7 linked regions of the Homo sapiens genome follow. The protein of the gene in region 4 purifies or fractionates together with the protein of the main gene of each other region. This does not show direct contact. Each region holds a gene or a part of one and is shown on either strand. Other genes may lie near its edges.

Region 1 (3,500 bases), on a different chromosome or scaffold from region 4:
TGGGGCTGTAGGGTGGGGGTGGGAGGGCGTGAGCAGGTGAAAAGAGGCAGGACAGAGAGGGGCCCGCTTCGGACCTGGCAAAGCCTGGGCCTGAGCATCCGTGTGTCCTCCCCCCGCAGTCATGGCTGCTTCTCTGACCTTCGGGGCCGGAACCTCCGTGGGCCCGTTGCCTTCCTTGTGGCCACAGCCGCCGTGAAGCCAACCAGGCAGCACAAAGATGTGGTGCTGAACTTGAGCGTGTCTAGCCAGCTAGGCGAGGCGGCCTGCAGGTGCTGCTCAGCCAGGTGCAGCCCCAGCAGCAGGGCCCACAGGCAGGTGCAGAAGGCATCGATCCTCCGGAGCCTGAAAGGGAAGCAGCGGGGTCACCCCAGGGGAGGACAAGACCTCCTGGGTCCACGCCTTCCTTCCTGCCTCCTCTGTCTATACCTGGCCCTGCTCAGAAGAGTCCAGAGCCAGGGGACAGTGTGGGCTCGGAATCCCCTCACACTCACACGCTACCTGGCTCTGAGCAGGTGGGTCAGTGTTTCTCCTCAGCCTGTAAGTTCTAGCCTAAAACAGGGCTAAGGAAAATTCCTCCGAGTCGGTGAGCAGGGGCGACGGGGACACAGCACTCACAGGACATGCTCCCACTCAGGGAACCCCAGAGGCCCCCACGTGAGCCCCCACAACCCAGGAGGCAGGTGGTTATCGTCATCCTGATTTGACAGAGCCCGAGGAGGAGAGAGGAGGCAACCCGGCCCAGCCCACAGCGGGTGTGCACGGGGCTGGCTCAGAGGGCGTCTGCAGCCTCACCTCACCTACGACTCCCAGCCCCTGGGACCAAGCCTTGTACCAGTGACATGGTGGAGTTCAGCCTAGGGCTGTGCACCCAATGGGGTCTCTTGGCCCCCGCCCTAGACAGTAATCCAGCACACAGTCCCCTGCCCGCCAACTCCTGGCCCTGGCCCCATGCACACCTGATGCGGCCAGCCAGCAGCATTGCCAGCAGGCAGGTGAGTAGGCCCAGTGCCACGACGCCCGTCTGGTGGCTCTGCCCAAAGGCCCAGGCCTCACACAGCTTCTCCGCCATGTGCTCGGGGAGTAGGCCCAGCAACTGCCGCCAGCCCTCGGCCCCAGGGGTGGTGCCATTGTCAGGTGTGGCTGAGCCATTGCCACCAGGTGGCAGGGCCAGGGGCACAGTGGTGCCTGGGGCGAAGTGTCCGCTGGCCCCATACAGCGCGGTGGTCAGTAGGAAGGCGCAGGCCAGGAAGGCGAGGGCACGGAGCAGGATGACCTGGACCGGGGACTTCACGGCGGAGGAGAAGTTCTGCAAAGGAGGAAGAGAGGCGGGTTAGTGAGACGGCCACAGAGCCACCCCCAGCCATCACCGGTGCCAGTCTGTGCGGGGTTCTGGCCAGACCCATGTTCTCACACATCCTGGGCTTGGTTCAAAAACTCACCACTCAGTTCCACCGGCCCGCCTCACTTCTGGGCGGGGAGGAGTGCTGCTCTACCACCCTCTCCTTTTAAAGAAGACTTTCCATATTGTAGTGACCTTATTTTGGCTCACTGCAACCTCTTCCTCCTGGGTTTAAGCGATTCTCCTGCCCCAGTCTCCGCAGCAGCTGGGATTACAGGCGCCCACCACCACACTCAGCTAATTTTGTATTTTTTTTGTAGAGATGGGGTTTTACCATGTTGGCCAGGCTGGTCTTGAACTCCTGACCACAGGTGATCCACCAGCCTCGGCCTCCCAAAGTGCTGGGATTACAGGTGTGAGCCACCGCGCCCAGCCAAGTTGAGCCCCTTCCTTTACTCTGGGGAAGCAACATGCCCATGGGGCCACCTCCCTACCCTGCTCCCCAGGCCCCTTCATGTCATCCAGGGTGGGTGTCCCGGGAGAGTGACTGGTATCACCACGCGTTTATTATGTGCGTATCTGAGCATGGGTTTTAGGGGTGGCCCTCCTGTTTCTCAGCACTTTCCTGGCACTTGCATTCGTCCTCCTAGCAGCCTTGGTGGTGCACTCCTAAGCCCTGGACCCATTTACAGCTGTGGAAACCACACTCAGGGAAGCTGAGAAACTTGCACAGGGCCACGTAGAAAGCCCACATCTGGTATGCAGTGGCTCCAGGGTTTGAGCCCAAGACCATCTGGCTAAAACTAATTTTTATCATAGTACTCAGTTGATAGAATATTCTGGTTGTTTAAAAAATCTGGTATGGTAGCAAGGAGGTTAAGTAGTAAAATCTACCCCTACAAGGAAACTCCTATCCACCCCTTTGTGTCTCTAGATGTGACCTGGGTCTGATTGATATGTGGTTTCCAGTCTGCAGCTGGGACACAGCCGTGCTACCTCTGCCCTGCCACACGTCTGCACAGCAAGGCACCAGGTGGACCCTCTCCTGGGGCCTTTGGTTCTCATTCTGTCTGCCTTGTTCCTGGTCTGAATAACTTACTACTGTACTTTTAAGGTTAACTTTTGCCACAGTTATCTGTCCATTTATGTCAGCTCCAATTAAAATCACAATAGGGGCCGGGCGCAGTGGCTCACGCCTGTAATGTCAGCACTTTGGGAGGCTGAGGCGGGCGGATCACGAGCTCAGGAGATTGAGACCACGGTGAAAACCCGTCTCTACTAAAAATACAAAAAATTAGCCAGGTGCCTGTAGTCCCAGCTACTTGGGAGGCTGAGGCAGGAGAATTGCGTGAACCCGGGAGGCGGAGCTTGCAGTGAGCCGAGATCACGCCACTGCACTCCAGTCTGGGCGACAGAGCGAGACTCCGTCTCAAAAAACAAAACAAAACAAACAAAAAAACCTCACAATAGGAATTTTTGGTGAGAACTTCACAAAATGATGGAAACAGTTATTTGGAGGCCGGGTGCGGTGGCTCAGGCCTGTAATCCCAGCACTTTGGGAGGCCAAGGCGGGTGGATCATTTGATGTCAGGAGTTCAAGAGTTCAAGACCAGCCTGAGCAACAGGGTGAAACCTCGTCTCTACTAAAATATAAATATTAGTCGGCTGTGGTGATGCGTGCCTGTAATCCCAGCTACTCAGGAGGCTGAGGCAGGAAAATTGCTTGAACCCGGGAGGAAGAGATTGCAGTGAGCCGAGATCGCGCCACTTCACTCCAGCCTGGGCGACAGTGTGAAACTGTCTCAAAAAATAAAATTTAAAAATAAATAAAAGGCTAGGCATGGTGGCTCACGCCTGTAATCCCAGCACTTTGGGAGGCCAAAGTGGGAGGATCACCTGAGGTCAGGAGTTCAAGACAAGTCTGGCCAACATGGTGAAACCCCACCTCTACAAAAATATAAAAATTAACTGGGCATGATGGCGGGTGCCTGTAATCCCAGCTACTCGGGAGGCTGAGACGGGAGAATCGCTTGAACCTGGGAGGCAAGGTTATAGTGAGCCGAGATCGTGCCACTGCACTCCAGCCTGGGTGACAGAGCAAGACTCTGTTTAAAAAAAAAAAAGGACGGGTGCAGTGGCTCACATCTGTAATCCCAGAACT
Region 2 (3,500 bases), on a different chromosome or scaffold from region 4:
TTACTCTATGATCTCTCCCTTACCCCCATTTTATTTCTTTTTTCATTTCATATTATTTTACATGTTATTTGACCACTCTTTTCCACTTGAAACCACTCTCTTGCCATCAATGTCATTATATTCTCTGAGGTCTGCTGCTTCCCCTGATTATGTCTCCAGGCCCTCTTCCTTCTCCCAGGTCTAAGCTCCTCAGATCCATCCTTGGCATGTTCCCTTCTCTTTCCTACTCTTTCTCTTAATGGGTTTGTCTAACAGAGTGTATGGTTAAGAGCACAGTCTCCAGAATCAGACTAGTCTGCCTGTATTGTGACCTTGGGCAGTCTGCCCTCTTTGCATCATAGTTTACTTGTTTGTAAAAGAGTAACTCTCTCATGAGATTGCTATGAAAGTTTAACGGGGCCAGGCGCGGTGGCTCACGCCTGTAATCCCAGCACTTTGGGAGGCTGAAGTGGGCAGATCACGAGGTCAGGATATTGAGACCATCCTGGCCAACATGGTGATACTCCATCTCTACTAAAAATACAAAAATTAGCCAGGTGTGGTGGCATGCACCTGTAATCCCAGCTACTTGGGAGGCTGAGGTAGAAGAATAGCTTGAATCCAGGAGGCAGAGGTTGCAGTGAGCCGAGATTGCACCACTGCACTCCAGCCTGGTGACAGAGCAAGACTCCGTCTCAAAAAAAAAAAAAAAAAAAAAAAAGAAAAAGAAAAAGAAAAAGAAAAAAGAAAAAATGGAAAAATACATAAAAATATTCTCTTACCTCTATGCTGAAATTCCCAAATATCTATCTTTAGCCCTAAGCTTTTAGACTCTAATTTCCAGCTGTTTGTTAGACATTATATTGATACCTTACTAGTGACGCAAATTCAGCATGCCCAAATGTGAACTCAACAATCCTACACCTCCCAAACCTGTTTAGTCTCAGGCTCTATTTCTGATATTACTGTTACCATCATGCCAGTCATCAGGCTCAAAATCTAGTCGTTATAATTTTCTCCCTTAAACTCCTCCTTCCAACCAGTGGTCAGTTCACCCATATGCATCTTAATCTTTCCATCCATCTTATCTCCATTCCCACTGCCTCTACCTAGTTCTAGCCCTCAATGCTTTTTTTTCTTCCCTTGAGATGGAGTTTCACTCTTGTTGCCCAGGCTGGAGTGCAATGGCGCAATCTCGGCTCACTGCAACCTCCACCCCCAGGTTCAAGCAATTCTACCGTCTCAGCCTCCCGAGTAGCTGGGATTACAGGCACACACCACCATGCCCAGCTAATTTTTGTATTTTTAGTAGAGACAGGGTTTCACCATGGTGGCCAGGCTGGTCTCAAGCTCCTGACCTCGTGATCCATCCGCCTCGGCCTCCCAAAGTGCTGGGACTACGGGCGTGAGCCACCATGCCTGGCCCCAGTTCTCAATGCTTCTTACTGAGACACCATGATAGTTTCCTAATTTGTCTCCCCACCTCCAGTTTCTTCCTCTCCAATCCTCCTACACACTACTCCCAGATCTGTCTTCATAAAAGTAAAACAATGACACACCCATGTTCAAAAACATTCAGTAGTTCACCACTGCCTACTGTACAAGGACCAAAAACTACTTAGCCCTATATGAAAGGTCTTTGATGATCTACCCCAGCTTTCCTTTCCAGTCCTTTCTCTCACTCCTCTCCCTTAGTTACTCTCTGTCTACTAAAAGAGACTGTTTACTCTCTGTGATACTGTGAAATATATATTTGGTCTTCCCTGCTTCCTGGCATATAAAATCTAAAATCATTAGTGCCTCCTAAGTGATGTCTTTTTGTGTGCTGAGTTGACTAGTTGCTGGCAGCCCCTAAGTAGCTTCCAGATGGTGGCTGGTCACTGGAAAGACCCAGGCAGGATTAGAGGGTTATAATTTTCAGCCCCCCACCCAACCCACACTTCCTGGGAAGAGAGGGGCTGAAGGCTAAGTTAATCACCAATGGCCAATGGTTTAATCAATCATGCCTACATAATGAAGTCTCCATTAAAAACCCAAAAGGACAGGGTTTGGAGAGCTTCTGGATAGCTGAACACGTAGAGGTTCCTGGGGCATAGCATGCCTGCCTGGGGAGGGCACAGAAGCTTCCCGCCACTTCCCATACCTCGCACTATGCATCTCTTCATCCATATCCTTTGTAATACCCTTTACAGTAATCCAGTAAACATGTTTCCTTCAGTCCTGTGAGCTGCTCTAGCAAATTAATTGAACCCAAGGAGGGGGTTGTGGGAACCCGTTTATAGCCAGTTGGTGAGAAGCACAGATAAAGCAACCTGGAGCCTGTGACTGGCATATGAAGGAGAAGGGCGGGCTTAGAGACTGAGTCGTCAACCTTTGGAATCTGATGCTGTCCCTGGGTAGATAGTGTCAGAATTGAACTGAATTAGAGGACACCCAACTGGTGTCCACTGCAGAATTAATTGCTTGCTTATTGGTTGGGAAAAATTCCCACACATTTGGTCACAGAAGTCTTCTGTGTCAATTGTTTTCGAGTGAGGGAATAGAAAAAACACTTTTGAGTTTGGGTTTTTCCACTCAAGACTCTGCTTTGAACGCACTAGGCTTTCAAACTCCACTCCTACTCAGATTATTCCCTCTGCATTGATTGCCCTTCTACCCCATTTCTACATGTTCAAACCATACTAGGCTTTCAAGGCCTGGCTCAAATGCTACTTCCTCAATAAACCCTCCCCTGATGGTATTCCCCCCTTCACTCCTGTCAGCAATACCTCCATTTTTTTTTTTTTTGAGACAGAGACTTGCTCTGTGGCCCAGGCTGGAGTGCAGTGGTGCGATCTAGGCTCACTGCAAGCTCTGCCTCCCAGGTTCATGCCATTCTCCTGCCTCAGCCTCCCAAGTAGCTGGGACTACAAGCACCCGCCACCATGCACGGCTAATTTTTTTGTATTTTTAGTAGAGATGGGGTTTCACCGTGTTAGCCAGGATAGTCTCGATCTCCTGACCCACCCACCTCAGCCTCCCAAAGTACTGGGATTACAGGCGTGAGCCACTGCGCCCGGCCCCATATTCTTTTTTTGAGATGGAGTCCTGCTCTATCACCTCCACCTCCTGGGTTCAAGCGAATCTCGTGCCTTAGCCTCCCGAGTAGCTGGGATTACAGGTACTTGCCACCATGCCTGGTTAATTTTTTTTGTATTATTTTTAGTAGAGATGGGGTTTTGCCATGTTGGCCAGGCTGGTCTTGAACTCCTCACTTCAAGTGACCCACCCACCTCGGCCTCCAAAAGTGCTGGAATTACAGGAGTGAGCCACTGTGCCCATCCAACTCCCATTTTCTTTTATTTCTCTCTTATGGCATTTACCACTTTGCTTCTTTCCCTTACTCATCTTGTTTTGGCTCCAACACTCCCCTTCTGATTCTCTTCTGGCCATAGGACCAGACCATTTAATGCCCCAACATCACTGTTACTTAATATGTAAGACTTAGGTGGCCTAAGAAGGAAAAATAATAGTTTCACTTC
Region 3 (4,048 bases), on a different chromosome or scaffold from region 4:
GCTACTCGGGAGGCTGAGGCAGGAGAATCACTTGAACCCGGGAGGCGGAGGTTGCAGCGAGCTAAGATCACACCACTGCACTCCAGCCTGGGCAACAAGAGCGAAACTCCTTTTCAAAAAAAAAAAAAAAAAAAGCCACAGTCCTTACAATGACCTCCACAGTCTCCTGGCTGCTCTTCCCATGTGCCCACTCTATTCCTGCTGCAGGGCCTTTGCGCTGGCTGTTGCTGTTGCCTGTAATATTCTGACTCTCAGGCAACCATCTCGCTCACCCCTTCACCTCCTCCCCATCTTTGGTCAACTGTCTTCTCAATGAGCCTCTCAGTAACCAATGACCTGTCACCCAGGCCCACATCCTCATCTCCCTAACCCTGCTTCATTTCTCTCCTTACTGCTCAGCATCATTTATAACCTCACATAATCTACTTCTTTGCCTTGATTTTGTTGGTCTCCCCATCCAGATGATCGGCTTCCTGAAGGCAAGGATTTTTATCTCTTGCTCACTGTTCCATCCCCAGGACCTACAACAGTTCCTGGCTTGATACATTTTTGTTTGAAGAAGTGAATGAATGAGGCTAGGAAAGGAGGGAGTGATTTGCTCAAAGCTGTGAACCCTAGTGGAATCCAGGGCTCATCCTCCCAATCACTTCGCTCCTGGGGTTAGGGCGCTGTTAAGAGCAGCCCCCAAGTGGGCCACAGTTGTCCAGGAGAAGGGGAATTTTTACTCTTGTATAACTTTTTGGTGTGTGGCTTTTGGGAGGGACAAGATGACAAGACATAGGAAAATCCTGGGGGAGGCCATCCTGAACCACAGCCCCCCAGGTCTATCTCTTTATCCCGTGATATTCTGAACACGCACATATACTCTTGGTTTTTGTTTTTATTTTTTTTCACTGCAGCCTCGAACTCCTGGGCTCAAGCAGCCCTCCCACCTCAGCCTCCTGAATAGCTGGGGACTACAGGTGCCCACCAACCACACCCAGCTTTTTTTTTTTTTTTTTTTTTTTCCTGTAAAGACAGGGTCTCACTATGTTGCCGAGGTTGGTCTTGAACTCCTGGCCTCCAGCGATCCTCCCACTTTGGCCTTCCCAACTGCTGGGATTACAGGCATGAGCCACCTCGCCTGGCCTGTATTTTGTCTTTTAATCATCTGCCCCCTCAACTAGCATATCCACTCCATGAGGACAGGGATTCTTGTCTATTTTGTTCTCTGTTGTACCCCCAATGTAAAGTAGGTGCTCATTAAACAGTTGTTCAACCAGTGTTTACGAATGAACGTATGAATGAATGAAGAACATTCTGGGCTCGGTAGAGCTGACAAAGGCTAGATAATTTATCCCAGTGCCCTCACCTCCAAAGCCTTTTGAGACCAAAGCTTCCTTCCTCTTGTTCTTGCCTTCAAATCTTCCACTCCACCCTCACCGGCCTCCCCTGCTGCTCCTCCACTCACCGTGCTCACCGCCACTTCAGGGCCTTTGCACTTGTTGTTCTTGCTGCCTGCTCACCCAGATCTTTGCATGGCTAAGCTGCCACTTGTAATTCAGCTTTCACCTCTAAAGTAGTTCATCAGGCTCTCAGAGAACCCACAAAACCCCGTGTATCTTTGTCGACTCGTGTCTGATCAACTAGACTGTGAGACCCCGCACAGTGAGAACACTGTGTGTATCGACCCCCTTCGTGGCTGTATATTATACCCTTCAGCTAGAATAGTGAATATGCGTTCAACGCAGAAGGAATGCCTACGAGAAAAGAAGTCACACCCTAGTGAAGTCCAGGGTCTTCCCTAGGGAGTCCAGGACGATAGCCTGAGAGCTGGGTGAGAAGCTGCAGGTCAGGGCAACAGTTGTTCACGCCATAGGAAGAGGATGAGGCACATTCTGGGAAGGAAGGCTTCACCGCCTCACTGCGGGACACTGTTCTGTGGCAGAAGTAATGAAGACGGGCTGACCGCGATGAGGGTGGGGTGAGAGGAGGTACGGGAGTATGTCATGGGAGCCTGGAGCTAAGCAGGCGGATATTTCTACCTGAGGCGGGAGAGGATGTGAGTGTGAAGGAACTCTAGAGGGAGCTGTGCCGCTGCGATGGGGGGGTGGCTTTGAAAGGGGCATTCTTAAGGGGAATCACTGGAGGACCTGCAGAAGGGAAAAAGGCATTCTTGGTGCTGACCAGAATAGAAAGTATTTTCACACCCACGAAGGGGCGTTCTGCTGGGGAGGGAGGTGGTCAGGGCCATTGGGGGCTGTTGCTGTATGGACAGAGATAACGGGGGACAGTTCTGCTGCAAGGCACTAAGGAAACACTCTGGGGAGAATTATATAGAGGATACTAATAAGAGGGTTCACGAGCAGCTGCCCTACATGGGGAGGGGCAATGCTGATGGCATCTGGAGGCTGACCTGGAGGAAGCAATGACGGGGAGCGCTATGTGGAGGGGATCCTACGAGGAGGTATCATTTGGGGGCCCTGGCAGCCGTTTAGGGGATCGCCACGAATGAAAGCGCTTTGGCAGCCATCCTAGCTGGGGGCGTTCATGGGGGAGCTATCTGCAGTGATCCTACCGGGGAGCAGTGATTGGGGGTCCCTTGGCAAGGGCCCGGCGGGAGCTGCACTGACTTGCTAGGGGTTGGGGGACGTTCTGGGGACCACAGCGGGCCAGGGCGGGGCCCCCCGCCCCCGCTGCACCCGGGCCCCCGGGCCACGCACCCCGTCACTCACCGGCGCCGGGGTCTCCGCCGGGAGGAGGCCGAGGAGGCGGAGGAGGCGCCGCCGCTCCGGGGAGACCCGAGGGCCCGACCGGAAGTGCCGCCCCCTCCCCCCTCCCCGGCAGCCCCGCACCGCCCGCCTGCCCGCCCGCCCGGAAGCGGAAGTCGCGCCCGTTCCCGAGGCGCCGGCGTGGAGGATCGGAAAGAGGAGGCGGTGGCGGGGACCAGGAGGGGGGAAATGCGCTTGCGCACTGACTCGGGGACGCGAGCAGTGAAAGCCCGGGCCGATTCCGGTGGGCGAACTGAGCCAGGTGCGCCTGCGCTTTGAATGCCCGCCTCTTCTACGGGAACCCCGCGACACGCTCTGGGCGTCCGGTTAAGCCACACCTCCGGCTCGGGTCTCACACTGAAGCCCCGCCCCCTGGCCCTGAACCACGCCCATCTCACAGCGTGATTATAAGCCCCCTACTGCCTCAAAGTCTGTCTTCGTCCCCTCGCCCTCATGCAGTTTCTCCTGTTCTTCCCCCTCTCCAAGCTCCCACTCTCTGGAACTTCACCCCTCCCTAGGCCCCGCCCCCTCCATCCAAGCCCCGCCCCTTCACCCCATAGCATTTAAGTTGCACCTCGTGACTTTTGAGTGCCTCCCACCTCTAAAGCATTCTTTTAAATCGGTGGTTGTCAAGGATAGTTGGGAGGCCAGCAGCATCCGGCTGCCTGCTCAGACCATGCGGAATAGAAGCCCTGGGGTTGGGGGTCTAGGGATCCGTGTTTTGAAATACTCTGATTCTGCTGCATGCTGGTCAAGAGCCATGGATTTACCACACTTGACACTGCCCGCTCATATAATCGCTATAATCCCGGCTCCCAACTCAGCCCCATCCCAAACAGCCAAACCCAGACCCATTCAGCCCCTCCTGCTAAGCTTCCACTCTCCCAGGAACTTCCCTTAGATTAAGTACTTCCTTCTCTCCCCATCGCCTCCATAGCAGTCGTGCGCCCCCATCAGCACCTTCTAAGTCCCACCTCCAATACCCTGTTCCCTCAGAGTTTCTCCTTTAAGCCCCGGCCCCCGGCCCTCGGCCCTGAACCACGCCCACCTCAGAGCTGAATTATTATAAGCTCCGCCCCTCACCTTAAAATCCGTTCTCTTGGCCTGGCGTGGTGGCTCACGCCTGTAATCCCAGCACTTTGGGAGGCCAAGGCAGGCGGATTGCTTGAGCACAGGAGTTCAAGACCAGCCTGGGCAATATGGCAAAACCCCGTCTCTACAAAAAAAAAAAATACAAAAATTAGGCTGGACGCGGTGGCTCACGCCTGTAATCCCAGCACTTTGGGAGGCCGAGGCGG
Region 4 (3,978 bases):
CACCTGTAATCTCAGCACTCTGGGAAGCCCAGGCAGGCGGATCACTTGAAGTCAAGAGTTTGAGACCAGGCTGGCCAACATGAGGAAACTCTGTCTCTACTAAAAATACAAAAATTAGCCAGCATTGTGGTGGGCGCCTGTAATCCCAGCTACTCGGGAGGCTGAGGCAAGAGAATCGCTTGAACCCAAGAGGTTGCAGTGAGCCGAGGATCACTCCCCTGTACTCCAGCCTGGGCGACAGAGCAAGACTCTGTCCCAAAAAAAAAAAAAAAAAAAAAAAAAAAAAGACAATGAAGTGCTGCTTTCGAAATTCTGAGGGAAAAATGATTTCCCAGCCTAAAATTCTACACCCCAACTGTCAACTGTGGGGTTAGACTAAAGACATTTTTAGACATGAAGGAGTTCAGTACACCACTGACAAATGTAAGAATTCAACAACTGTTTAAAAAGCAAGTCTTGCCAGGGCAGTGGTGTGCACCTGTGGTCCCAGCTACTCAGGATGCTGAGGCAGGAGGATTACTTGTGCCCAGCAAGTAGAGGCTGCAGTGACCTGTGACTGTGCTACTGCCCTCCAACCTGGGTGACAGAGTGAGACCTTGTCTCAAAAAAAAAAGAGCGGGGGGGGGGGGCCGGGCCGGGCGTGGTGGCTCACAGCTGTAATCCCAGCACTTTGGGAAGCCAAGGCGGGTGGATCACTTGAGGTCAGGAGTTTGAGACCATCATGGTCAACACTGCGAAACACTGTCCCTACTAAAAATACAAAAATTAGCCGGGCATGGTGGCACACACCTGTAATCCCAGCTACTGGGGAGGCTGAGGCAGGAGAATTGCTTGAGCCGGGGAGACGGAGGTTGCAGTGAGCCGAGACTGCGCCACTGCACTCCAGCCTGACTGACAAGAGTGAGATTGTCTCAAAAAAAAAAAAAAAAGTAATCACTAGAAAAGAAGCTACATATGTACATAACATCCAAATAACCAAGAGGAGAAAAAAATGGGACTTGATTAATCAAAACAAAAACAAAAAAGAAAGAAAGAAAGGGGGAGAAAAAAAAACAAGGGCTGGGTGTGCTGGCTCATGCCTGTAATCCCAGCACTTTGGAAGCCAAGGTGGGTGGATCTCTTGAGCTCAGGAGGTCAAGACCAGCCTGGGCAACATGGCGAAACCCCGTCTCTATTAAAAAAAAAATTAATACAACAATTATCCTGGAGTGGTGGTGCACACCTGTAGTCCCAGCTACCCAGGACGCTGAGACGGGAGGATCGCTTGATCCCGGGGATGTCGAGGCTGCCATGATCGCACCACTGCCCTCCAGCCAGGGTGGCAGACTGAGACCCCATCTCAAAAAATAAATAAATAAAAGCAAACAAGAAAAAAAAAGGCTTGAAACATATCTGATAGATAAAGGGCTAATCAACACAATATATAAAGAACTGCAAATCAGTAAACTAAGAGCAAATAACCCAATATAAAGACATTAAAGGGTAGCCACGGACATCTCAGACGACGAAAAACAAAAGACAGTAAACGTATAATAAAACATGTAATTGCAAGGTGATCCGGGAATAGTAAGCGAAAAGCAACAATTAAATACTATTTTCTCATCCACCAGAACGCCAAAAATTAAAAAGCCTAACAATGTCCAGGGCTGGCGAGAATGTGGCAGAAGGTGATGTCACATACCCTGCAAGTGGGAATCTAAACAGATTCAGGGTTTTGGTTTTTTTTTAATCGCAATTAGGTGGCCTGTTAAATTTTTTTTCTTGAGACAGAGTTTTGCTCTTGTTGCCCAGGCTGGAGTGCAATGGCTCGATCTTGGCTCACCGCAACCTCGACCTCCCAGGTACAAGCGATTCTCCTGTCTCAGCCTCCCAAGTAGCTGGGAGTACAGGTATGTGCCACTACACCCAGCTAATTTTTTTGTATTTAGTAGAAACGGGGTGTCTCCATGTTAGGCTGGTCAGGAACTCCTGACCTCAGGTGATCCACCCACCTTGGCCTCCCAAAGTGCTGGGATTACAGGAGCGTGTGCCACTGTGCCCAGCCACTTTTTTTTTTTTTTTAGACGGAGTCTTGCTCTGTCGCCCAGGCTGGAGTACAGTGGCGCCATCTCAGCTCACTGCAACCTCCGCTTCCCGGATTCAAGTGATTCTCCTGCCTCAGATTCCCATTAGCTGGGATTACAGGTGCCCACCACCGCCTGGCATGGTGGCTCACACCTGTAATCCCAACACTTTGGGAGGCCGAGGTGGGCAGATCACCTGAGGTCAGGAGTTCGAGACCAACCTGGCCAACATGGTGAAAACCCGTCTCTACTAAAAATACAAAAAATTAGCCAGGTGTGGTGGCGGATGCCTGTAATCCCAGCTATTCAGGAGGCTGAGGCAGGAGAATCGCTTGAAGCCAGGAGGCAGAGGTTGCAACGAGCTAAGTTCGAGCCACTGCACTCCAGCTTGGGCGACAGGGCGAGACTCCGTCTCAAAAAAAAAAAAAATGTAAACACACATTCCCTTTAACCCAGCAGAACATGGGAACCCAAGGGCATTCAGCCTGTGGCGCGACCAGGCGGCCTGACTTGAGCTCACGTAGAAATTCGGCATTTTTGAACCAAGAGACAGCACTTGGGATCCGGAATGTCTGGACTTGGGCACGGCGCTGTGGAGCTGGCGCCGTTGGGAGCCATGCGAGTTCTGGGTCGGTAGGTCACCTCAGAGGTGGGGAGAAGGTTCTCTGAGACCGACATGGGGGCTAGTGCTGGCACCACCGGACATGGGGCATTTCAGACACAGGGCGAGCACATTCCCTAGTTACCAGGGTTCATTCGAGTCAGTCACGTCACAGGCTGGCAATGGGCTAACTCCTCCTCAACAATCACACGGGGCTTGCCTCATAGAATGTTTTAAAAAAGGAAAGGAGGCTGGCGCAGGCGCCAACCGTCTCAGAACCCTGAGCACTGCCCCACCCCCACCCTGCCCGCCATAGCCTGGGCTGTTGTGGGGGAGGGGTGACCATTTATCACGAAACAAAAAATTGCGCCACAGCAGCTCCCTCCCTCCCCCACCTTTACGGTTGCAGCTGCACGTCCCACGTGCAGCACCACCCCCTGACACGTGCGGCACCACCCCCTGACACGTGCGGCACCACCCCCTGACACGTGCGGCACCACCCCCTGACACGTGCGGCACCACCCCCTGACACGTGCGGCACCACACAGCTAGTGCCGGAACTTTTTGTGCAGAGAAAGAAGACCCTGCACCCGCGCGGAGGGAGCCCTTTTGAGATTGCAGGAGAGAAGATGAGAATGGGACTATTTTCAATAACTGTGCACATGCAAGTCACAAACATTCCAGATCCCTTGACTTGCTTGCGGAGGGAGCGGCCGGCGGAGGGAGCGGCAGGTGGAGGGAGTGGCACGAGGCATGCGGAGGGAGCTGCACCGACATCACATAAACGCACTGGGCAGCTCGCAGGCGCCATTCGCTCTTCAGACGCCGGAGACGTAGGAGTGGGTCTTCAGACTCCAAAGGGGTTGGACTAATGGCGGATGCTGAGGCGAGGGCTGAGTTCCCGGAGGAGGCCAGACCTGACAGGGGCACCTTGCAGGTGTTGCAAGATATGGCCAGCCGCTTGCGAATCCATTCCATCAGGGCCACATGCTCCACGAGCTCCGGGTAAGTTCTCCTCATTGAAGTCTGGGTCATGCAGGGCCACGGGCCCGGTGGCTTCAGGCCTGGTGGCCATGAGGCCGTGTGGTGAAGGGAGAGCCTTCAGAGGCACAATGGGCTGTGTCGTAATGCCCTGTCTTGGGCTGTTGGGGCCCGGTCGAGCACCCTAGATGGCAGCGAGGCACTATTCCCGCCAACCCAAGGGTCGGTCGGTTGGTTGGTCAGCCGCGGGTTCTGGAGCCCGCCCCTCAATTTACCCACGGCCAAAGTTCTGGAGGTCGCCAAGATCTCCAGTTGGGAGACAAAGGATCCAGA
Region 5 (3,500 bases), on a different chromosome or scaffold from region 4:
ATTTGAAATATGTAGTTAACCATTTTAAATCTACGGTTAAGTGGCTTTTAGTTCATTCACAGTGTAACATGTGCAGCCACCACCGCTGCCAAACTCTAGAACATTTTCATCACCCCAAAAAGAAACCCCATACCTATTAAGCAGTCCCTCTCTTTGTTCCCTGGCAACCACAGTCTGATTTTTGTCCTATGGGTTTGCCTATTCTAAACATGTCACATAAATGGAATCATAATACCTGGCCTTTTGGGGTTTTTTTTGTTTATTTTATTTTATTTGAGACGGAGTCTCACTCTGTCTCCCAGGCTGGAGTGCAGTGGTGTGATCTCGGCTCACTGCAACCTCCGCCTCCCGGGTTCCAGGGATTCTCCTGCCTCAGCCTCCCGAGTAGCTGGGATTACAGGTGCACACACCACACCTGGCTAATTTTTTTTTTTTTTGTAGAAACGGTTTCACCATGTTGGCCAGGCTGGTCTTGAACTCCTGACCTCAAGTGATTGGTCCGCCTCAGCCTCCCAAAGTGCTGGGATTACAGGTGTGAGCCATTGCACCCGGCTTGCCCTTTTGTTTTTAGCTTCTTTCACTTAACAGTGTTTTTATTCATCCATGTTGTAGCAAGTATCAGTACTTCATTCCTTTCTTATGGCATAGTAATATTCCATTGTATGGATACACCACGTTTTGTGTACCTGTTCATCAGTAGGCTGTTCTGAATAATGCCGCTTTTTTGCTATTATGAATAATGCTGCCTTGAATATTCTTGTATAAGCTTTTGTTTGAACATACATTTTCAGTTCTCTTGAGTATGTAACCACTGTATTTCTTTTGATAAGTTTATTATCATATAAAGTAGAAAGTTTTCCAATGGCTTGACTTTGGATAAAGTGCTGAAAGAATGCTACTTTCTCCTGGAATATGGTATTCCTTAGTGAATACTGAAATCACATAATTTTCTTGTTGTCTTTATAGAATAAAGAATTTTGGTCCAGATAGGGTAACAGTAGGTAGCCTTCCTCTAGAATTCTGTCAGAAGAACATCCTGAGTTATGTGAACCATTCAGTTATCTATCTGAGAGCAGCAAGTGGTCTCTCACTGTGCAGTTGGGTTATGAGGTCTGCTAGTGGTCTCAAGCAGTCTCTGAGTGTATGAATTGCATTTAACATTATGTATTCAAGCCGGGCACAGTGGCTCACGCCTGTAATCCCAGCACTTTGGGAGGCTGAGGTGGGTGGATCATGAGGTCAAGAGATCGAGACCATCCTGGCCAACATGGTGAAACCCTGTCTCTACTAAAAATACAAAAATTAGCTGGGCGTGGTCGTGGGCGCCTGTAATCCCAGCTACTCGGGAGGCTGAGGCAGGAGAATTGCTTGAACCCAGGAGGCGGAGGTTGCAGTGAGCCGAGATTGCGCCACTGCACTCCAACCTGGTGACAGAGTGAGACTCTGTCTCAAAAAACAAACAAACAAAAAAACCTATTATGTATTCAGAGGGATAGTAGGCAGGATTCCCATTCTGTAATCTATTTGGCATCAGTGATGTTACAGAGATTTTATTCTAACCACATTCCCTCAGGTTTGAACTATAATAGAATAGCATCAAATATTGTTTTCCTTTTTTCTATTTTTTGAGATGAAGTCTCTCTGTCTCACCCAAGCTGGAGTGCAGTGGCACGATCTCAGCTCACTGCAACCTCTGCTTCCTGGGTTCAAGCAATTCTCCTGCCTCAGCCTCCCGAGTAGCTGGGATTACAGGCACCCGCCATCATGCCTGGCTAATTTTTGTGTTTTTGTAGAGACGGTTTCACCATGTTGGTCAGGCCGGTCTTGAACTCCTGACCTCAGGTGATCCTTTTTCTACTTCAACACCTGACCCCAAAGCTTTGTTCTGCAGTGATTGCTTTGACACCTTTGCTTTGACAAATTCATTTTCCTCAGGAAGACTTGGCAAAAGTTTTCTTCTTTTGCCAGTTTGGGACAACCTGACCAATTCATTGAAACCTATTGTTGTTTTTCAGATTTCTTGAAAACAAGGAACATTCTTTGCTGTAGCTTATTTATTTACTTATTTATGTAGAAACAGGGTCTCACTTTGTCACCCAGGCTGGAGTGCAGTGGTGCAATCAAAGCTCACTGCAGCCTGGACCTCCCGGGTTCAAGCAATCCTCCTGCCTCAGCTCCCCGAGTAGCTGGGACTGCAGGTGTGTCCCACCGTCTCTGGCTAATTTTTGCATTTTTTGTAGAGATGAGGTTTCACCATGTTGCCCAGGCTGGTTTTGAATCCTGCGCTCAAGCAACCTGCCTGCCTCAGCCTCCCAAAATGCTAGGATTACAGGTATGAGCCACTACGCCCTGCCTGCTGTAGCTCATTTGTAAATGACTTTCGAGTTCCATTGAGACAGTGAAAAAAATCGATAAATTATATATTGACCACCATTTTTTTTTATCTCAAAGAATTTCTCTGTAGGCAAGCCCTTCAAAGATTTTGAAAACCACTGTTTATGTAGTAGAATACTAAGCTGGAAACAAGGAGGTTTTAGTTTTAATTTTATTTCTTCAAAAGACTCTGTTATCAGACAAATAGCTTGTACTTTAGAGCTTCATTTTATAAAGAAGAAATAATATTGACTGTGATTTGTAGGAAAGTGTGATGGGAACTGAGTTCTAATTCTAATAATCAGGGTACTTTGAAGTTTGTGGAAGACAAGCATGTTGGAAGATATGTATAAATTCTTTTTTTATTTTATTTTGTAGAAATGGGGTTGCACTATGTTGCCCAGGCTGGTCTCCAATTCCTGGGCTCAAGTGATCCTCCCGTCTCAGCCTCCCAAAGTACTGGGATTACAGGTGTGAGCCACCATGCCCAGCCTGAAAATTCTTGATATTGCTTTTTTCTTTATTTTAATAATGTAAATGATTCTGCTCATACTATTATAAAAGTCTTTGTCCAGTATGCGTGTATATTTTGTTTATTCATATATTTTACCTTTTTTTGGTGCTCTTTGTTCTTTTGTATAGTTCTAGATTTCTGTGTGGTATGATTTTCCTTCTGATTGAAGGATTTCTAATGTTTCTTGTAGTGCACATTTGCTGACAATGAATCCTTTTAGTATTTGGACATCTGAAGACTTTAATTTGTTTTTAGTTTTCGAAACTGTTTTCACAGGATATGTAATTACTGTTGACGTTTCTTTATGATGCTGTTTCACCATCTTCTGGCCTGCATTGTATCCAATGAGAAATCTGCTTTCATTGGGTTTATTTTTCTGTATGTAATGTGTGGTTGTTTCCTTCTGGCTGCTTTTATTTTTCTTTCAAAAATATATTTTTTCTTTTTTTAATTTAATTTTTTTATTTCTAAAATAAAATAAAATAGACGCGAGGTTTCACCATCTTGTTTCACCATGTTGGTGAAACCAAGTTGGTCAGGCTAGTCTTGAACTCCTGGCCTCAAGTGATTGATCCCTCTTGGCTTCCCAAAGTGTTGGGATTACAAGTGTGAG
Region 6 (4,057 bases), on a different chromosome or scaffold from region 4:
ATGACCAACCCATCTTCCTCATGAAGGCAACTGGGGGAATAAATGGAGAAAGCAGTTTCCACTGCTGTCCTGAGTTGGAGAGTGGGGAATTTCCAAAGCTGCCTCTCACAGACTCAGCTGAGGGTCTCATTGGTCAAAGATTCAGGGTTTGCTGGCCAGACTCATCTGGACCGGCTCAGAATGAGGCTGAAGTCTGCAGCAGAAGGCTAGCCTCCTCCCCACAACAGCATTCAAGAGACCCCTTCCCCCTCACCATCTCACTTAAAACAGGAACTACACCTCCTGACCACATGGGATGGACTCGGGGGTGACAGCAGAGATAAACACCAAGGACTCCCTGGGCCTGGCAAAAGCTCAAGCTTCTTGTGCAGAGAGAGCCTATCCCACAGAGATCCTCTAGACATAAGTCTAGCCACGAAGCTCTGAAAAGGACGGCGGCAGAACCAGAGTTCAGATTTGAATAATTACTGCAAAGTTTAAAAAACACACACAACAATAACCTAGTCGTCCCCCTTTTCACTCCTCCCCAAGGCACACAGACAGGTAACATACACAGGTAAGAGCACACACACTCACCTGCGCTCTGACTTCCTGACTCTGAGCTGCTCAGGCCAAATGAGGAATGGCATTGGCTTATTCTGGTGAGCTCCTTAGTGGCTGCTGCCATAGGATATAGGCTTTATTAAATGCAACAGAGTCCTTTCCGTTTCCCTAGCCCAGACCCTGCACCTTCTCTGGAGAAAATAACTGTGAGGCATCAATTTCCAAGGCATCTAAGTTCCTTCCTTGGGCTGACATCTCGCTCAGCTGGACGGTGAGCTGGCTTGAGAAGCCTGAGCCTGCAGTCCCTGTGGCAGTTCCGGCAAAGGTGCATTATTTATCTCAGCTGCTGTTTTAATTGATAGAGATATATTCAAGACAGCTCGCCAATTGTCTCGGCAACCTCAGGCCGGAAAATAAACAGCTCCATGTGAACAGTTCTTTCGGCTTCTGGTTCTAGCTGCTGGCTCAGCATGTATGCAACTTGAACTGAGGCCCCAAACCAGCCCAAGCACTGCTCCACCACCTGTCAGTTCTCCACCCTGGGGGTTGGTTCAGCAGGCAGGCAGAGATCTCCAAGCACTATCTTAACCTCTGGCTCCACCTAACGGCAGGAAATCCACCTTCCCCCCCCGCCCCCGCCACCACCCCCCCCCCCCCGCCCCTTCACAGATCGGCAAACTGAGCTTCATCCAGGAAAGCGCTCAAAGATCCCAATGGGGCCCGGCACGGTGGCTCACGCCTGTAATCCCAGCACTTAGGAAGGCCGAGGCGGGTAGATCACCTGAGGTCAGTTCAAGACCAGCCTGGCCAACATGGCGAAACCCCGTCTCTACTAAAAATACAAAAATTACCCGGGCGTGGTGGCGGGTGCCTGTAATCCCAGCTACTCTGGAGGCTGAGACAGGAGAATCGCTTGAACCGAGGAGGTGGAGGTTGCAGTGAGCCGAGATCGCGCCACTGCACTCCAGCCTGGGCGACAGAACGAGACTCCGTCTCACACACATACACACACACACACACACACACACACACACACACACACACACACAAAGATCCCAATGGGTAGAGACTTACTCAGCAAGGAAAACTAATGGTCACCTGCTGTCCACTTTTTGGTTAGCATCTTGGATTTCTCCAGCCCTTTGTCTGCGAATAACACTTCACACATTATTCAAACAATCTCGGATGGGTGAGTCACTAAAACGCTTGCTGAATAATGGGGAACAAACACAGAGACCTGACACGGAGCTGAAAGACAGAGGCATAAATGGTACCTGACGTCCCCCCTGGGGTGCCAGCAAAGCATCCGCTCATCCTCTCTGACCTTTGCCTGGCTTCCCCCCTCACTTTTATCCTGTTAAAGCACTTCTGCGTGGGGTGGCGAGAGCTAAGTCGCGGGCTGGGCTTGCCGGGGGGATGGTCTGCGCTCACCTTTAAATCAGGAGGCTTGCTTCGGGGACCTGGGTTGGGCGCCGCGGCAGCGCCGGCGTCTGAAGTTGGCCCGCCAGCAGAGTTAGCACCCGTGGTCTCCCCAGGCCGGAGGTCCGCGCCCGGCAGGTGGGAAGCGGCATCTTCCAGCCCAGCTCCATCCTCCTCGCCCTGTTGTTGCTGCAGCTCGTCCGATCTGCACCTCTTCATGGTGTATGTGGGTCGGCAAGGGGAATCTGTCCTTCCAGCGCGCCGTCTTGGGGAAGACCGCACCCCCTCTTATATTCATATGAGGCCTGGGGTCTAAATTATTAACAAGGAGGGGAGATGGCAGACCACAATTTCTTGAATTAAAAAAAAAATTCTTAAAGGCGGGTGAGGGAGGGGCGAGAAGGGGGAGCCTTGGTTATAGCTTGGAATAGTTCATTTCGACCTGGGGAGCGAAGACAGGTCACAGTCGAGGCTGGGCAGCAAGAGTCCTTGGGCAGTCATTGCAGGAGGGAGAAGGGAGACAACCCCCGGCCCCCAAACTTTCTGCTTCAGGGCATGGGCAGGACGGAGAGGAGCTGGGCGGCACAGCGCATCCCTCCCGGCCGGCCGGGCTGCGGGGCGAGGCGGGGCGCGGGGCAGCCGGCCGGGCAGGTCCTAGTCGGCCGCCATCGGCGCCGGCTGCAGCCCCCGGCCCTGCAACCGGCCCCTGCCCCGCATGGTCCGGCCGCGGAGCCCGCAGCGCGCCCGGCCCCCTCCCCGGCCCGCGCGCCCCGCTCCCCGCCTGACGCGCAGCCTGCCGCAAAGCCGCGACCGCGGCCCGAGCCCGCGGCGAGCGCGCAACCTACCCCGCCCGGCTGCCTCCGCCCGGGAGCGGGAAGGCGAGGCTAGGAGGGAGTGACAGCGGCAACCGGCCAATGGGAAGCCCGCGGGGCTGAGGGGGCGTCGCGCAGCTTCGTTTTTGGGGTTGGTTGCACCGTGCGATCCCCCAGGAGAGGGCTGGAGGACGATGCTGCTGCGTTTTTGCATTGCAGAGAGCGGGCTGCAGTTCAGGGGCGGGGGCGGCGGGCGTGGGAGTCGCAGTTTCGGCTCCAGCTTGAGGGACCCTGCCGAGGAGGGCTCGCCCAGGATTTCCTCCACCCATTCGCTTTATTTGGCGAGAAGGAGCACAAGAGGGATGTTTATTATCACTGCTTTTTGGGGCTCTTAACTTTGCACCTTCTAGCCATAAGGGAGACACCTATCCCCTCTAGGATACTTGGTCTGAGTTAAATCTATGCCTACATTCAGAGCTGCAAATGCCAAGGGGAGGGGGCGTTCTCTCCTCATCGCCCCGTCCCCCGCTTTAAGTGCATTATTTCTTAATGAGACTTTACTTGGCATAATTTATGCTCAGAAATTGGGAAGAATTTCATATAAAAACACAATAACGTATGTGAGAGTTCCTTACAAACTGTGAAGCAGCTTTTAAATAAGAAAGGGTATTAATGGCAGGAGGTTGCTACATATAGATGTGTGGAAAGGGAATGCTGTCTCTCTTTGCATAAATCTCAGCCAAACTGTGCTGAGTAATCTGGAAGCAGAAGAGAGCAAACGTTGGGGTTACCAAGATATGGAGAGTAGTAATAATAACAACCCCATCTGAGTGTCTATTGTATGCCTCCTGTGGACACAATGGATTTTACTCATCCAGCAACCAGTGGTTCACAAATTGTGATCCTTGGACTAGCAACTTCAGCATCACACGGGAACTTGATAGAAATGCAAATTCTTGGCCACCAGCCAGACCTAGAGAATCAGAAGTAGTGAGCCAAGAAATCTGTGTTTTGACAAGCCCTCCAGGTAATTCTGACACACACTACCCTTTGAGAACCACTGGCCTAGACAGTGAAGGGGCCACACGGTCTCTAAAGGATTTTACAGTTTACCAATCTCTTTCGCACCCATCATGCCATTGTAGCCTCACTTCAGTCTCACTAGTCGGAGTTTCTTGACTTTCTGTTCTGTCTTCTTCCCATTCCAACCACTCATTTTAATGTGTATCCTAGAAGAGACTAATTTGTTAAGAATTTACTTCAGCCAAGCAGCTACTTTCTAA
Region 7 (3,500 bases), on a different chromosome or scaffold from region 4:
CAATAACAGATGGACAAAGTCAAAATAAGCAAAGCTCAATTCACTGGGTAAGAGAAAAAGGAGAAGAGACTGACCAGCAAACCAAAGGAGAAACAACAGGGGAAGCCACAATCAGAGCAACAGGCTGCAGGGGACTCCTACTCGAGACCCCATTGTGGAGCTCGTTTCTGCTAAGTTCCTCTTCTGGGGTGAGCTAGTTTTCTTAAAAGCAAGTGGGAAGCCAAACACGAAAGGTTACATATTGTATGATTCTATGCATATGAAATATCCAGAAGAGGTAAATCCATTGAGACAGAAACAGACTGGCAATGGGGAGTACCTATGTAATGGGCAGAGGATTTTCCTTTTGGGGTGATAAAAATGTTCTGGAACCAGATAGAGGTGGTGACCGTACAACACTGTGAATGTACTAAATGCCACTGAAACATACACTTTAAAATGGCCAATTTTATGTGACTTTCACCTGAAATACAAACATATACATACGTGTGTGTATATGTGTGTGTATATATATATGCAAACACACACACATACACACACATATACAGAAGTGGGACATGGTTAGGTAAATGAGTCTGGTTCCCCAGAATATGTCTTACTTGACCCCAATGGTGGTTTAAAAGAGAGCCCTAAGCGGTTTAAATTCAGATTATTTGAAGAAGAGTGTAATATTTAAAAGCAAAAGGTCCTTGGACCCTAAACTGTACTTCTCTCCAAATCCATGAAGCCCCTCGTTGTTCCATTTCAGAACAGGACAGTTAGTTCCCCTCGCACAGTCTGCCACACGCAACACGGCCTGGCACACTGAGAGGGTGTCCATGTACACCTGTTAAATAAACAGACGCCAATGTGCCAGAATGCTCAGGATTAAATACTGCTGTTTAAAGTTCAATGAAACCATTTTTACTTACTCGAGATGCTTTGCCCCACCCCTTTCCTGAATGAAAGTAATAAAAAATGCTACCTTTCAGTATGTTGTGTGTTTAACAGAAGATTCCAGAGGGCAGTCTGGACTACCAGCTATTAAGGATATAGGCATACCTTGTTTTATTGCGCTTTGCAGATATTGTGATTATTTTAGACTGAAGGTTCACGGCAATCCTGCATCTGGCAGGTGTGTCAGCATCTTCCCAGCAGCATGTGCTCACGTCATGTCTCTGTGTCACATTTTGGTAATTCTCAAATATTTCAAATGATTTCATGATTACTACATCTGTTACGGTGATCTGTGCTCAGTGACGTTTGATGTTACTTTTGTAATTGTTTTGGGGTGCCAGGAACAACACTCTTATAAGATGGTAAACTCAATTAATAAATGTGTGTGTTTTGACTGCTCCATGAACTGGCCATTCCCCCATCTCTCTCCTTCTCAGTTCTCCCTATTCTCTGTGACACAACAATATTGAAATTAGGCCAATTGAGAACCCTACAATGGCCTTTAAGTGTCCAAGTAAAAGAAGAATTGCATGTCTCTCACTTTAAATCAAAAGCTAGAAATGATTAAGCTTAGGGAGGAAGGCAGGCCCAAAGCCAAAACAGGCCAAAATCCAGCCTCTCAAATCAAACACTTAGCCAGGCTGTGGATGCAAAGGAAAAGTTCTTGAAGGAAATTAAAAGTGCCACTCTATAAACAGATGAATGGTAAGAAAGTGAAACAACCGTATTGCTGATATGAAGAAAGTTTTAGTGGCCTGGACAGAAGATCAAACTAGCCACAGTGACAGATCCTTAAGCCAAAGCCTAACCCAGAGCAAGGCCCTAACTCTCTTCAATTCTATGAAGGCTGACAGAGGCAAGAAAGCTGCAGAGGAAGAGGTGGAAACTGGAAGAAGTTGGTTCATGAGGTTTAGGGAAAGAAGGCGTCTCCATAACATAAAAGTGCAAGGTGAAGCAGCAAGTGCTGATGGAGAAGCTGCATTAAGTTCTCCAGAAAATCTAGCTAAAATCATTAATAAAGATGGGTACACTAGACAACAGATTTTTAGTGTAGATAAAATAGCCCTGTGTTGAAAGAAGATGCTATCCAGGACTTCTACTGCTAAAAAGGAGAAGTAATGCCTGGATTCAAAGCATCAGGACAGGCCGACTCTCACTAAGGTCTAACGTGCCTGGTGACTTTCAGTTGGGCCAATGTTCATTTACCGTTTGGAAACCCTAGGGTTCTTAAGAATGATGGTAAGTCTACTCTGCCTGTACTCTCGAAATGGAAGAACCAAGCCTGAATGAGAGCACATCTGTCTATAACATGGCTTACGGAATATTTTAAGCCCAGCGTTGAGACTTACTGCTCAAAAAAAAAAAAAAAAAAGATTCCTTTCAAAATATCACCGCTCATTGATAATGCACCTAGGTCACGCAAGAGCTCTGATGGAGATGTACAAGATTAAAGTTGTTTTCATGGCTGCTAACACAACAACCATTCTGCAGCCCATGGATCAAGGTGGAACTTTGACTTTAAAGTCTTATTTAAAAATACATTTCATAAGGCTATAGCTGCCATAGGCTTCCTCTGCCATTCCTCTGATGGATCTGGGCAAAGTAAATTGAAAACCTTCTGGAAAGAATTCACCATTCTAGATGTCATTAAGAACATCTGTGATTTGGCCCGCTGTGGTGGCTCACACCTGTAATCCCAGCACTTTGGGAGGCTGAGGCAGGCAGATCATCTGAGGTCAGGAGTTTGAGACCAGCCCGGCCAATATGGTAAACCCTGTCTCTACTAAAAATATAAACATTAGCTGGGCACGGTGGCGGGCACCTGTAATCCCAGCTACTCGGGACGCTGAGGCAGCAGAATTACTTGAACCCAGGAGGTGGGGGTTGCAGTGAGCCGAGATTGTGCCACTGCACTCCAGACGGGGCAACAGAGCTGGACTCCGTCTCAAAAAAACAAAAAAACAAAAAACAAACAAAAAAAATCTGTGATTCATGAGAGGAGGGCAGAATATCAACATTAATAGGAGTTTGGAAGAAGCTGATTCCACCCCTCATGGACGACTTGGAGGGGTTCAATGCTTTAGTGGAGGAAGTAACGCAAATGTGGTAGAATGGCAAGAGAATGAGAAAAGTGGAGCCTGAAGATGACTGAATTACTGCAATCTCACGATAAAACCCAAATGGATGAAGAGTTGCTTCTTATGGATGAGCAAAGAAAGTGGTTTCTTGAGACAGAATCTGCCCATGGTGAAGATGCTGTGAATATTGTTATGATAGATTTGAAATATTACATAAGCTTAATTGATAAAGCAGTTGCAGGGTTTAAGACAACTGATTCCAATTTTGAAAGAAGGTCTACTGTGGGTAAAATGCTATTAAACAGCATCACATGCTACATACAGAGAAATCTTTCATGAAAGAGTCAATCAATGCAGCAAATTCTATTGCTGTCTTACTGTAATACACTGCTACAGCCACCCGAACCTTCAGCAACCACCATCCTGATCAGTTAGCAGCCATCGACATCAAGGCAACATCAAGGCTCCACCAGCAAAAAGATGATG

What was found.
Region 1: the proteins of TEX28 (region 4) and TMEM201 purify together in Homo sapiens (affinity purification with mass spectrometry; 2 studies listed by BioGRID and IntAct, with this or other methods). This does not show direct contact.
Region 2: the proteins of TEX28 (region 4) and BLTP2 purify together in Homo sapiens (co-immunoprecipitation; 3 studies listed by BioGRID and IntAct, with this or other methods). This does not show direct contact.
Region 3: the proteins of TEX28 (region 4) and ZNF865 purify together in Homo sapiens (affinity purification with mass spectrometry; 2 studies listed by BioGRID and IntAct, with this or other methods). This does not show direct contact.
Region 5: the proteins of TEX28 (region 4) and TMCC1 purify together in Homo sapiens (co-immunoprecipitation; 3 studies listed by BioGRID and IntAct, with this or other methods). This does not show direct contact.
Region 6: the proteins of TEX28 (region 4) and TMCC2 purify together in Homo sapiens (co-immunoprecipitation; 3 studies listed by BioGRID and IntAct, with this or other methods). This does not show direct contact.
Region 7: the proteins of TEX28 (region 4) and RTF2 purify together in Homo sapiens (affinity purification with mass spectrometry; 2 studies listed by BioGRID and IntAct, with this or other methods). This does not show direct contact.

Annotation. Positions count from the first base shown.
Region 1 is NC_000001.11:9,598,911-9,602,410, reverse strand, and holds part of TMEM201 (transmembrane protein 201), read right to left. Parts: intron 1,307-3,500; coding exon 957-1,306; intron 343-956; coding exon 139-342; coding exon of another isoform or gene 120-138; exon of another isoform or gene 1-119. UniProt on the Homo sapiens protein: Critical regulator of angiogenesis and endothelial cell (EC) migration. Promotes the migration of endothelial cells, which is essential for angiogenesis.
Region 2 is NC_000017.11:28,624,659-28,628,158, forward strand, and holds part of BLTP2 (bridge-like lipid transfer protein family member 2 isoform 1 precursor), read right to left. Parts: intron 1-3,500. UniProt on the Homo sapiens protein: Tube-forming lipid transport protein which binds to phosphatidylinositols and affects phosphatidylinositol-4,5-bisphosphate (PtdIns-4,5-P2) distribution.
Region 3 is NC_000019.10:55,604,399-55,608,446, reverse strand, and holds the start of ZNF865 (zinc finger protein 865), read right to left. Parts: upstream 2,801-4,048; 5' UTR 2,715-2,800; intron 1-2,714. UniProt on the Homo sapiens protein: May be involved in transcriptional regulation.
Region 4 is NC_000023.11:154,292,325-154,296,302, forward strand, and holds the start of TEX28 (testis-specific protein TEX28), read right to left. Parts: upstream 2,801-3,978; 5' UTR 2,706-2,800; intron 2,700-2,705; exon of another isoform or gene 2,682-2,699; coding exon of another isoform or gene 2,584-2,681; intron 1-2,583. Other genes in the region: TKTL1 (transketolase-like protein 1), read left to right, coding at 3,536-3,669.
Region 5 is NC_000003.12:129,883,712-129,887,211, reverse strand, and holds part of TMCC1 (transmembrane and coiled-coil domains protein 1), read left to right. Parts: intron 1-3,500. UniProt on the Homo sapiens protein: Endoplasmic reticulum membrane protein that promotes endoplasmic reticulum-associated endosome fission.
Region 6 is NC_000001.11:205,226,689-205,230,745, reverse strand, and holds the start of TMCC2 (transmembrane and coiled-coil domains protein 2), read right to left. Parts: upstream 2,801-4,057; 5' UTR 2,182-2,800; coding exon 1,975-2,181; intron 1,816-1,974; exon of another isoform or gene 1,618-1,815; intron 1,032-1,617; exon of another isoform or gene 577-1,031; intron 1-576.
Region 7 is NC_000020.11:56,478,627-56,482,126, reverse strand, and holds part of RTF2 (replication termination factor 2), read right to left. Parts: intron 1-3,500. UniProt on the Homo sapiens protein: Replication termination factor which is a component of the elongating replisome. Required for ATR pathway signaling upon DNA damage and has a positive activity during DNA replication.